Linked DNA regions of Homo sapiens: region 1 is linked to region 2. The links come from fine-mapping of genetic effects on gene expression. Tissue or cell type: whole blood. Region 2 holds a variant in brackets; the other region holds the start of a gene. All regions are shown on one strand. Distances are from middle to middle.

Region 1 (5,373 bases), 48 kb before region 2:
CGATCTGCACTCAGGAATGCTGAGTGTTCGGCAGGCCCCATGAACAGTGATCAAATGTGACGCTGTGTGTCCCACAGCCTAAGGGCTGTGGCAGAGACCAGGAGGGCCATCAGCTCCCACAGCTTTCGAGTCCACCTCAGGGCTCCTCCTTGCTGACCTCCCTGGGTTGTCAGTGGAGACAGCCACCCTCCCACAGAGCACCTGCCTGAAATGGGCCAGGCCGCCCCTGTGCCCTGGCTCTTGCTGCACATGCTGAGGTCAGCACGGAGGCGCCCTCGGGCACCAGCATGCCCTCGGGTTTGCAGCTTGTCAAATATCCCATGAAGGCAACCTGACCAAATGTGCTCTAACACCACTGGACCAATGGAACGTCTTGGGCTGAACAGATGCAGCCTTGCATCCACCGCCTGCCACCACCCTCTGTGTACACCCCCTGCACACACCTCTGCACACACCCCCCCTGCACACTGTTGCACATACCCCCTGCACACAGCCTGTGTACACTCCCTGCACAGATCCCCTGCACACAACTCCCTCACACATCCTCTGCACAAACCCTGTGTATACCCCCTGCACACACCTCTACACATACCTTCACACACCATGTATACCTCCTGCACACACCTCTGCACACACCTCCTGCACACACCTTGTGTACACTCCCTGCACACTGTTGCACACACCCCCTGCACATAGCCTCTGCACACAGCCTGTGTACACTCCCTGCACAGATCCCCTGCACACACCTCCCACACACATCCTCTGCACAAACCCTGTGTATACCTCCTGCACACACATCTACACACACCTCCTGCACACACCTTGTGTACACCCCCTGCACACTGTTGCACACACCTCCTGCACACACCTCCTGCACACACTGTTGCACACACCCCCACACATAGCCCCTACACACACCTCTGCACATACTGTTGCACACACCCCCACACATAGCTCCTGCACACACCTCCTGCACACACCTCCTGCACACACTGTTGCACACACCCCCACACATAGACCCTGCACACACCTCCTGCACACACTGTTGCACACACCCCTTGCACATACACCCTGTATATACCCCCTGCATACTCCTTATGTACAGCACTGCACATACTCCCTGCAGAGACCCTGTGTGCATCCTCTGCACACACCCCTTCTGTATACTGTCTGCACACACCCCCTACATGTACACCCTCTGCACACTCCTCCTGCATACACCCCATGTACACCTTCTGCACACACTCCCTGAACACATTCTGAGTACACCTCCTGCACACCCCGTGTACAACCTCTGCACACACCCCCTACACACTCCCCTACACACTCCCCTACACCATCCACACACACTCCCTGCACACAGCCCCTGCACACATTCCCCATGTACACCCTCTGTCTGTGTATACCCTCGTCTACTACCACCATACGTACCCCCCACCACTACCCTGCCTTGTCTATCACCCCCCAGGCTGTGACATACCAGGGATGTTGCCAACGAGCTGGTCTAATCTGGGGTGAGGGTTTCTGGGTGCCCCTAGACACCAGGAGAAAGGCGGGGAGGGGACACCCCTGGGGGTCTGGATTCACTCCACCAGGCGCTGGGCCACAGTGGTACGGTGACACAGTAGATGTCTTGAGCAGGATTAAAGTCTTCCCAATAAACAGGCTGAACTCTGTCTTCCTTGAAAGCTCTGTAGAAGGACCTCACAAGGATAAACACAGCGAGACCCTCCAGGGCGCGGTCAGCCACGAGCCACAGTGCTGGGCCTGTGACATCTCTGGAGGTTCTGGGGTGGAGAAGGACCGGCCGTGGGGAGTGACTGGCTGGGGAGAAGCTCAGCTCCCGCCCACCTCTGGGAGGCCCGGGGCTGGACGGGAGGTGCAGCAGACAAGGCTCCGGGCGGGTGCTGGGGTGTCTGGAGGGGTCCCCGCGGGGGGGTCGGGTTGGGTGGGGAGTCTAGGTGAGTCGGGGGTCCCCGGGGGCGCTGGGTTCAGGGTGGGAGCGGAGTGTGGATGGGGCAGGGTCCCCATGCCCACCACCAGCCGCGATTCCACCGCGCCTACTCGGGGTTTCCCCGGGAGGACACCGCGTGTGTCAAGGGCCGGGGCCTAGAAGGCGGCCGCGCCCAGGGAAGCCTTGACAGGGAGCTATCTGGGGCGGGGGCTGGGGTCGCGTGGCCAGTACCTGGGAGAACCGCCATTCAGGAGAACCCCCCGCCAGGCTCTTGGTTCCGCCCACGCAGTCCCGCCCCCTCCCCCAGCCACGCCCCTCGCCCCGCCGCGCAGGCCCCGCCCCGTCCCGCCAGGCTCTCGGTTCTGCCGACGCAGGTCCCGCCCCTCTCGTAGCCTCGCCCCGCCCGCCGCGCAGGCGCCGTCCGAGGGCTCCGTTTGAAACATGGCGCGGGCTGGCCCTCGGCTGGTGCTGAGCGAGGAGGCGGTTCGGGCGAAGAGCGGCTTAGGGCCTCACCGCGACCTGGGTGCGCCGGAGGGCGGGCGGGGGTGCAAGCGTGAGGTGGCGGGGGGGTGGGTGCCGAGCTTCCCGGGGCGGCGGCGGACCGTGGGCAGGCGGGACCCGTCTACGCAGGCGCCGCGGGCGTCCGGAACGGTCGCGGGCGAGCGGGGCGCGCGTGTCCAGGTGAGCGACCCACCCCCCGTGCCCAGGTGCGGCCCCTGCCCGCGTTCGGGTCCCGGCGTCCCGGCCCCTGCCTGTCTATCGGGTCACTGGTTCCGTGACTGGGGGTTACATCCGCTGAGAAGAGGGAGCCGGCCTTGCTGTCCAGGAGCGCAGCCCGCCCTCCCGCTGGGGATCACCTCCCTGGTTCTCCTGGGCCCACTCTGTGGTGATTGTTGCGCTCGGCCTTCTTGAGGATGTTGGTGGCCGGTTTCCTTCTTTTTGGCTTATTTTTGTCTGGTTTTGGCGTCAAGGTGAAGCCGAGCTCATAAACTGCTGAGAAGTGTTGCCTTCTCTTATATTTAGAAGAGGTTCTGTAGAGTGTGTGCTCATTGTTTGAATGTTTCCTGGAATTTTCCAGTGAAACCATATGGACATGTCAATTTCTGTTTTTGAAGCTTTTAAATGACAAATTCTGTATCTCTGGTTGTTAGAGAACCGTTCATATTAGTTCACCGCGAGTCTTGGCTGTGTGGGGTTTTGTGGCATTGGCTTATTTGAGCTAACTTGTGGAGTGTGTGTGTTGAGTTGTTTCTGGTGTTCTGTTGTTAGCCTGTTAATGTCTGTGTGTGGTCTGCAGGTGTTACTGGACCAACAGGTTCAGTCAGGTGCTGTGGGGGCCACAGGCCAATACACTGAGACAGTGGGGTTTGCAGCAGAGAAAGAGTTTAAGGCTGGCAGGGGCCCAGCAGGGAGGTGGAAGGAGGCCTCAATCCATCTCCCCAAGGAGATCTGAGCGGTTTTTTTTTTTTAGACGGAGTCTCACTCTGTCGTCCAGGTTGGAGTGCAGTGGCACAATCTCAGCTCACTGCAACCTCCACCTCCCAGGTTCAAGTGATTCACTCAGCCTCCTGAGTAGCTGGGATTACAAGCACGCGCCACCATGCCCGGCTAATTTTTTATATTTTTAGTAGAGACGGGGTTTCACCATGTTGGCCAGGCTGGTCTTGAACTCCTGATCTCAGGTGATCCACCTGCCTTGGCCTCCCAAAGTGCTGGGATTACAGGCATGAGCCACCTACACCCAGCCTGAGCTGGGGGTTTTAGAGGAACAGGACTGTGAGGAGCTGGAAGATTGGTGTTGTCAGTTGGTGGAGGTAAGGGCCATGGAATTATCAGGGTGTGGAAACTGCATTCTTTGGTGAATCCGCTTGCGGGGCCCTTTAGACCAGCTGGCATCAGTCCCCAGGTCCTGAAAGAATATCTCAAATGGAAAACTTAACGGTTTATAATGTCCAGGTTATTATCTGTAGAGTGGTTAAGGGGAACTGTAACCTCGTGACAAAATCCAAGTGATCCTGAGGCAGTAGGCACCACAGGGCTCTGAGGAAGCAGGTGAGAGGGCAGCTGACCTCGGGACATGCCGAGTCCTCCCTTCTTCCCTGATTAGTGCTACAAGGTTTACAGGGATATCCCTTTTCTGTTCCTGATGTTGATAATCTGTGTATTCTTTCTTTTTTAGTCTTGCTAGAGGCTTGTGAATGTTATTGATAGTTTCAAAGAACCGACTTTGGGTTTGATTTTTCTCCAGTGTTTTTCTAGTTTCAAATTTCATTGATTTCTGCTTTTTTTTATTTCCTTCTTTCTGCTTGCTTTGCATTTATTTTATACTTTTCTAAATCCTTGAGGCAAAACTGTAGATTATTGATTTGAGACTTTCCTATTTTCTATTATAAACAGTGCCACAAGTTTCCCTGTAAGCACTGCTTTAGCTGTATCCACAAATTTTGTTATGTTGTATTTTAATTTTCATCCAGTTCAGCGTATTTTAAGAATTTCCCTCGATACTTCCTGTTTGACCTGTGAATTTTTTTTTTTTTTTTTTTTTTGAGGTGGAGTCTCGCTCTGTCACCCAGGCTGGAGTGCAGTGACGCAATCTTGGCTCATTGAAAGCTCTGCCTCCTGGGTTCATGCCATTCTCCTGCCTCAGCCTCCCGAGTAGCTGGAACTCCTGACCTCATGATCCGCCCACCTCGGCCTCCCAAAGTGCTGGGATTACAGGCATGATCCACCGCGCCCGGCCTGACCTGTGGATTTTTAAGGAGTATGTTTTTAACGTTCCATGTGTGGATATTTTCCTGTTATTTTTCTGTGTGATTCCATTATGGCCAGAACATAATCTGTATGATTTTAATTCTTTTAAATTTGTCAGGGTTTGTTTTATGATCCAGCATCTGGTCTATGTTGTTGAATGTTCCAGGTGCACTTGAGTGTGTGTGTATTCTGTTGTTGAGTGGAGTGTTATGTAAATACATAAATATCAATTAGATCCTGTTGGTTGGTGATATTGTTCAGTTCTTCTGTATCCTTGCTGATTTTCTGTCTAGTGACTCTATTAATGACTGAGAGAGGGGTCTGGAACCCTTAACTGTAATTGTGGATTTGTCTGTTTTTTTTTTCACTTTGTATGTTTTGAAGCTCTGTTTGTTGAATTACATAGCTAGGATTTTTATACCTTCTTAGTGGACTGACCCTTTTAGTATATGTAGTCTTCCTCTTTTTTTTTTTTTTTTTTGAGACAGAGTTTCCTTCTTGTCCCCCAGGCTGGAGTGCAGTGGCACGATCTTGGGTCACTGCAACCTCTGCCTCCCGGGTTCACATGATTCCTCTGCTTCAGCTTCCCGAGTAGCTGGGATTACAGGCGCCTGCCATCACGCCTGCCTAATTTTTGTATTTTTAGTAGAGACGGGGTTTCACCATGT
Region 2 (5,373 bases):
CTGGAGCTGAGGACACACTCATCCAGGCAGCTGCAGCCAGTGTCCAAGCAGGCAGGGCCTGGGCCTAATGCGAACCACAGGGAGCTCCCTAGCAGGTCATCTCCAGAGCCTCCCTGAGGCCTCCCGGCCTCCTCCCCTTGCTGCTGTTCAGGGGCATTCCTCACCAGTGAGCCTCTTGTGATACAAAGGCCACCTCAGCATCTGCCTCCCGGGGACTCAGCCCATTCTTGGCCATTCTTCATATTCGTTATTTGAACTTTCTCTTCAGTCCTTTCAAAGAAACACCCTTTGCCTCCATTTTCTTTTCAATTTCTGATCTGATCTATCATTAGCCATGCTGAAATTACAAATAAATATGGGTTAAAATATTATTTTATCAATTTCCCTGTTCTGTGTTTCTTTCTCTTGTTTTATCAGCAAAGCTGATTTTTTTTTTTTTTTTTTTTTTTTTTTTTTTTTTTTTTTTTGAGATGGAGTCTCGCTCTATTGCCCAGGCTGGAGTGCAGTGGCGTGATCTCGGCTCACTGCAAGCTCCGCCTCCCGGGTTCACGCCATTCTCCTGCCTCAGCCTCCCGAGTAGCTGGGACTACAGGCGCCCGCCACCACGCCTGGCTAATTTTTTGTATTTTTAGCAGAGACAGGGTTTCACTGTGTTAGCCAGGATGGTCTCAATCTCCTGACCTTGTGATCTGCCCGCCTCGGCCTCCCAAAGTGCTGGGACTACAGGTGTGAGCCACCGCGCCCGGCCTCAGCGAAGCTGATTGATCCACCATCTCATTAGTTTAAATCTGCCATCTCATTTTGTGCTGTTTGTTCTATTCATGGTTTTTTCCCTCTTCACTTTTGCCACTTTTGGATGATCTCCTGTCATCCCGCATGTCCCTCTGCTCGTTTGGAGACTGTACTCTGCTTCTGTCCCATGCTTATGGCATGTGTGCGTTTAGTCCATGCTCTCACCCACCTCTGGGGTTGGTTCCTGGAGCGCGAGGCGCGCGTCCCTCTCCATGCTCCTGTTCTGCTCACCTGTGGGGGTTCCCAAGTATTTTTATGAAACATTTTAATCTCACAAAGTATTGATATAGCCACTGTTAATTTGGAGTTATTGACCTATTTATTCTCTTTGCTCCACTTTCTTCACAAACCAGACATGCCATTTGAGATCACCTTTGCTTTCTGCATTTAGAATTTCTTTAAATGTCTGCTGGTGGCAAATTCTCTTTTCATTGTCCAAAAATGCCTTTATTGTATCCTCATTTTGGAAAACTGTTTCGCTGGGCTAGTATCTCAGGTTGGCATTTTTTTTATAGCAGCCTGTGATGACATTGTCCTGTTTTGGGGGCTCTGGTGGTGTTCACAGTGTTCATGTCCATTCCCCTTGAATCTAGACCCCACCCAGGGCTACACCAGTGCTAGAGCAGGACTCACACCTGACAGATGGCTGGTCCGCCTGCTCCTCCTTCACGGTCCTCCTGTCTAGATGAGGAAGCGAGAGACTCCCTCGGGAAAAGGCGACACAAGGGCCTTGGCCCTGTGAGCTTCAGCCCAGTGGAGGCACTCAGCACACTCCCCACCTGGGGCCCCTCCAGTACCTATCCCCTGTTATCACCTGTTACAGACACGTGTGCTCTGAGGAACAGAGAAATCCATGTTTTAACACCTTTATTTGTCACTTTACCAACTTGACACACAATGTTAACGACAGCAGACACAGGAGCAGTGTGCACACAGACACGAGCTGTTTCACTACAGGTTTGCAAGCCAGGCTCAACAGCAAGTCCAACAGGCAACACCACACCTCTCACCTGCAGGAGGAACAGCAGGGCCACCCCACCCCGCGGACGTCCGCGGTGAGTGCGGTTTAGACATCAGCAGAAGTGGCTTTCAGAGTCAGAACAGCCATGACGTGGACATCACCCGTCACACTGATAAAGTGATGCACTCAGTACTCCCTAATGTTAATCACACAGTGTAAAAATATATTGCA[CATAT/C]ATATATATATATATATATATAAATTTGTTTCCCTTTCTTGAAAAAAACTTAGTACAAACTAGTAGTTACACGATCCCTTTCAAGTTTCTCTTAAGTTGTGCAGATTTCCTTTGTGGTTTGGCTTGGTTTAGTTTTTTAAGAGGTCGAAAGAAAGAAGTAAAGCATCTCGATGTGCCCAGGACTCCCCATCACATGCCCAGGGACAAACGCTGCACCCTGGACCACCAGAGCTCACAAAGTGTTCAGTAGTAAGAGGAGGAAAGATGCAGGTTCAGTGTTTGAAGGACGTTCTAGCCTATTGATAACATCACGGTCCAGCCTCATCTTCCCCCTGTGCCATCCCCTCGTGGTGTGTGCTGTGGGGTGGGAGGGTGGCCAGTGCACGCGTGATTGCCCACAGGAGGAGATGAGCTGGGCCAGTAGAGGGACAGGTAAGTGTCCAGGGCCAAGGCATCTCCATCTCAACTCCTCCCCACTCCACTTGTACAGCAGGAGCCACAGGCCTGTGTGAAAACACAGGACAGGCCCTGTGCCAACAAAACACCATTCACAAAAGCAGGCGGCCGCAGCAGCCCAGGATGGGGGCTGGGGTAGGAGGTGATGCCCACGCAGGGCTGCTGTGGTCAGCCCTGAGCTGGCATCCCTGGGGCCCGGGATGGAGTGGCACCAACAGGCAAGTGGGGCGGCCACAGGACATGATGCCAGCCCAACTCCACCATCTGCGCCCAAACTTGGACAGGATATTAGAAGGTGTAAAAGTAGTCCAGTATAAATATATATCTTCTACAATATTTTAAACATATAATTTGAACTTTAATTTTGGTAACGCTAATTGTTAGGAACACTACCTGGTTGCTTATCCTATAGCAGTAAATTAAAAATAAATAAGCACTCTGGCGTGAACAGTCTTCTCAGCGCTCTCCCTCTGCCTTTCTCCTTTCCTGATGCTGAGACACGATCAGCACTGTCCTCCCGACAGAACCTATTCCTGTGTCCTGGTGTCACCCCCAACAGAACCTGTCCCTCTCTCCTGGTGTCACCCCTGACAGAACCTGTCCCTCTCTCCTGGTGTCACCCCCGACAGAACCTGTCCCTGTCTCCTCTTGTCACCCCCAACAGAACCTGTCCCTCTCTCCTGGTGTCACCCATGATAGAACCTGTCCCTGTGTCCTCGTGTCACCCATGACAGAACCTGTCCCTGTGTCCTGGTGTCACCCCCGACAGAACCTGTCCCTGTGTCCTGGTGTCACCCCTGACAGAACCTGTCCCTCTCTCCTGGTTTGCAGGTTGTGCAGTTTGTTATTCACAAATACACATTTATTTTCTGTTGAACCGTGGTTAGTAGAAGCTAATTGGCAGTGCATAAAAACATGCAGAAGAGAACACACACCTGCCTGAATTCACAATATTCAGAAACTGACTGAGGAAGATGCACGGGTCTGTTATGTGCAGTGGGGCTGCCGTCCAAACAATGTTCTGTGTTCGGAGGCGGCACACAGATGCAATTACGGATTCCACAGACAAGTTGTAACTGACAGTGGTGACCACTATGTCCTCGTGACTTTATTTTTGCTACCCCTCCTGGCTAGGTGACAGAGATGGGAGCCGAGTGGGTGTTTTCAAAGATTCGCTTTGGAGCTGAGTGGAGAAGGGTGCTCTCCTGGCTCCCGCATGTCTGAGAAAAGCCTGAGGGCCGCTGGGGGAGGGCGTGCCTCTAACTCGTGGGCACCAACCCTGGAAGTGTGGAGGGAGAGTGGGGGCGTGGGGCCTCTCCCTCCAGGATCCCAGGGTGCTCCAGGCCAGGACGGGCAGGGTGCCACAGCAGCCTCGATCTCATTCACGAAACCCACAGGCGTGGCCTAGGGTTTGGGATGCACGCCACGATTTTCTCTCTCAGAGTGAAGGGACCACTTCTGTGAATGAGCTCACCTCCAGGGGCCAAGATGGGAGCCATGAGCCCCGCCGCTCCGGCCACTCCAGCCAGGTCTGGGAAGGGCTGTGGTGAGTCGGTGCTGGCCGTGTGGGCGAGGTGACCCGTCGGTGACAGGGCCTGCTCCCTGCGAGGTCGGGTGGTGCCCGGGCCGGGCGGAGGCTCTTCTCGTGCTCAGGGCCGGTTTCTGGTGTGCTCCCGATGCGCTTGGCTCTTTTCTCGAGGCCGTGCTTGTCTGAGGCCAACCAGGGACCAGGAGGCAGCGTCCTGGTGCCCAGCACCTCTCCTCAGTGTCCCTCGTCCCCACAGACCGGATCAGGGCCTGGCGAGCCTCTGTGCCTGCCGTGCGGTGTGAGGACCCGCGGACCCCAACCCGCCCTTCCCTCCGTCCTGACCCGGCGCCAGGCTCAGCTCCAGGGCGAGGTCCTCTGGAGTCATGTTCGTTCTGCGTGGCTTGGCCGTGACTGTGGGGACTGGGCTGCCCACGGACAGAAAGGAGAAACGCAGCCTGTGACCAGGAGACGCAGCCCAGGGTGGAGCCGCGCTGGGGCCAGGGAGGCCGAGGAGGGCAGGAGTCCGAGGGTGTAAGGGTGCCAGGGCCTTCCGGGTCTCAGGCTTCGGGACCTGGGGAGCCACCCTGTTTGGTGACCACTCGTCCTCGGCCTTTTCAACACAAGGGCTTTGGAGTTGTGATGGGCTGTTATCGGGTGATTCCGGTGGCCACTCGTCTGTGATCGGGTGATTCCGATGACTGCTCGTCTGTGATCGGGCGATTCTGGTGACCGCTCGTCTGTGATCGGGTGAGTCCGATGACTGCTCGTCTGTGATCGGGTGATTCCGATGACTGCTCGTCTGTGATCGGGCGAGTCTGGTGACCGCTCGTCTGTGATCGGGTGAGTCCGATGACTGCTCGTCTGTGATCGGGTGATTCCGATGACTGCTTGTCTGTGATTGGGCGATTCCGGTGGCCGCTCGTCTGTGATCGGGCGATTCCGGTGACCGCTCGTCTGTGATCGGGTGAGTCCGATGACTGCTCGTCTGTGACCGGGCGATTCCGGTGACCGCTCGTCTGTGATCGGGTGATTCCGAACCGCACATTCAGAGTTGTTTTCAAATGTTTCCGCACGTTAGTTCTGCCTTTCACACGCGGTCCAGCCAGGTTCAGCGGGGGCACAGGGCTGGGCTTGGGCACCCCCCGCCTTCCCCAGGCCGGTGAGGTGACATCCTAAAGGAGCCACGAAGCCTGAGGTCCATTTTTCCTTGCTCTTTATTTCCAGGCACTGAACTTCCCAGCCCTGCCGTGGAAGCTGCCTGCCAGGTCCTCCCCATCCTCAGGTGGAGGCTTCTCTGTTGAGGGGCCTCGGAGACCGCCCCCCAGCCCTCAGCGGACCATGCTGGCTGGGAGCTCCGCCCTGGGGCTTCTGCTCTGCTCAGGTAGGGGGAGTCCTTCCACG

The links.
Region 1: it holds the start of CEP72, and the variant in region 2 is fine-mapped to the expression of CEP72 in whole blood (INTERVAL, PIP 0.91).

The regions. Positions count from the first base shown.
Region 1 is chr5:609,967-615,339 of GRCh38, forward strand. CEP72 (centrosomal protein 72) reads left to right here and starts at 2,374. Exons shown (of 12, transcript NM_018140.4): 1 at 2,374-2,477. The coding sequence starts at 2,396. It overlaps CEP72-DT (CEP72 divergent transcript), which reads right to left and starts at 2,244. Exons shown (of 3, transcript NR_103444.1): 1 at 2,186-2,244; 2 at 1,481-1,787. RefSeq lists enhancers at 1,297-2,227, 2,228-3,157.
Region 2 is chr5:658,220-663,592 of GRCh38, forward strand. It overlaps TPPP (tubulin polymerization promoting protein), which reads right to left. Exons shown (of 4, transcript NM_007030.3): 4 at 1,643-5,373. It also overlaps a transcript of CEP72 not described here. Among named protein-coding and RNA genes, the nearest start is that of TPPP, 32 kb to the right of the region's middle. RefSeq lists an enhancer at 4,194-4,363. The variant CATAT/C (reference allele first, on the strand shown) is at 1,985.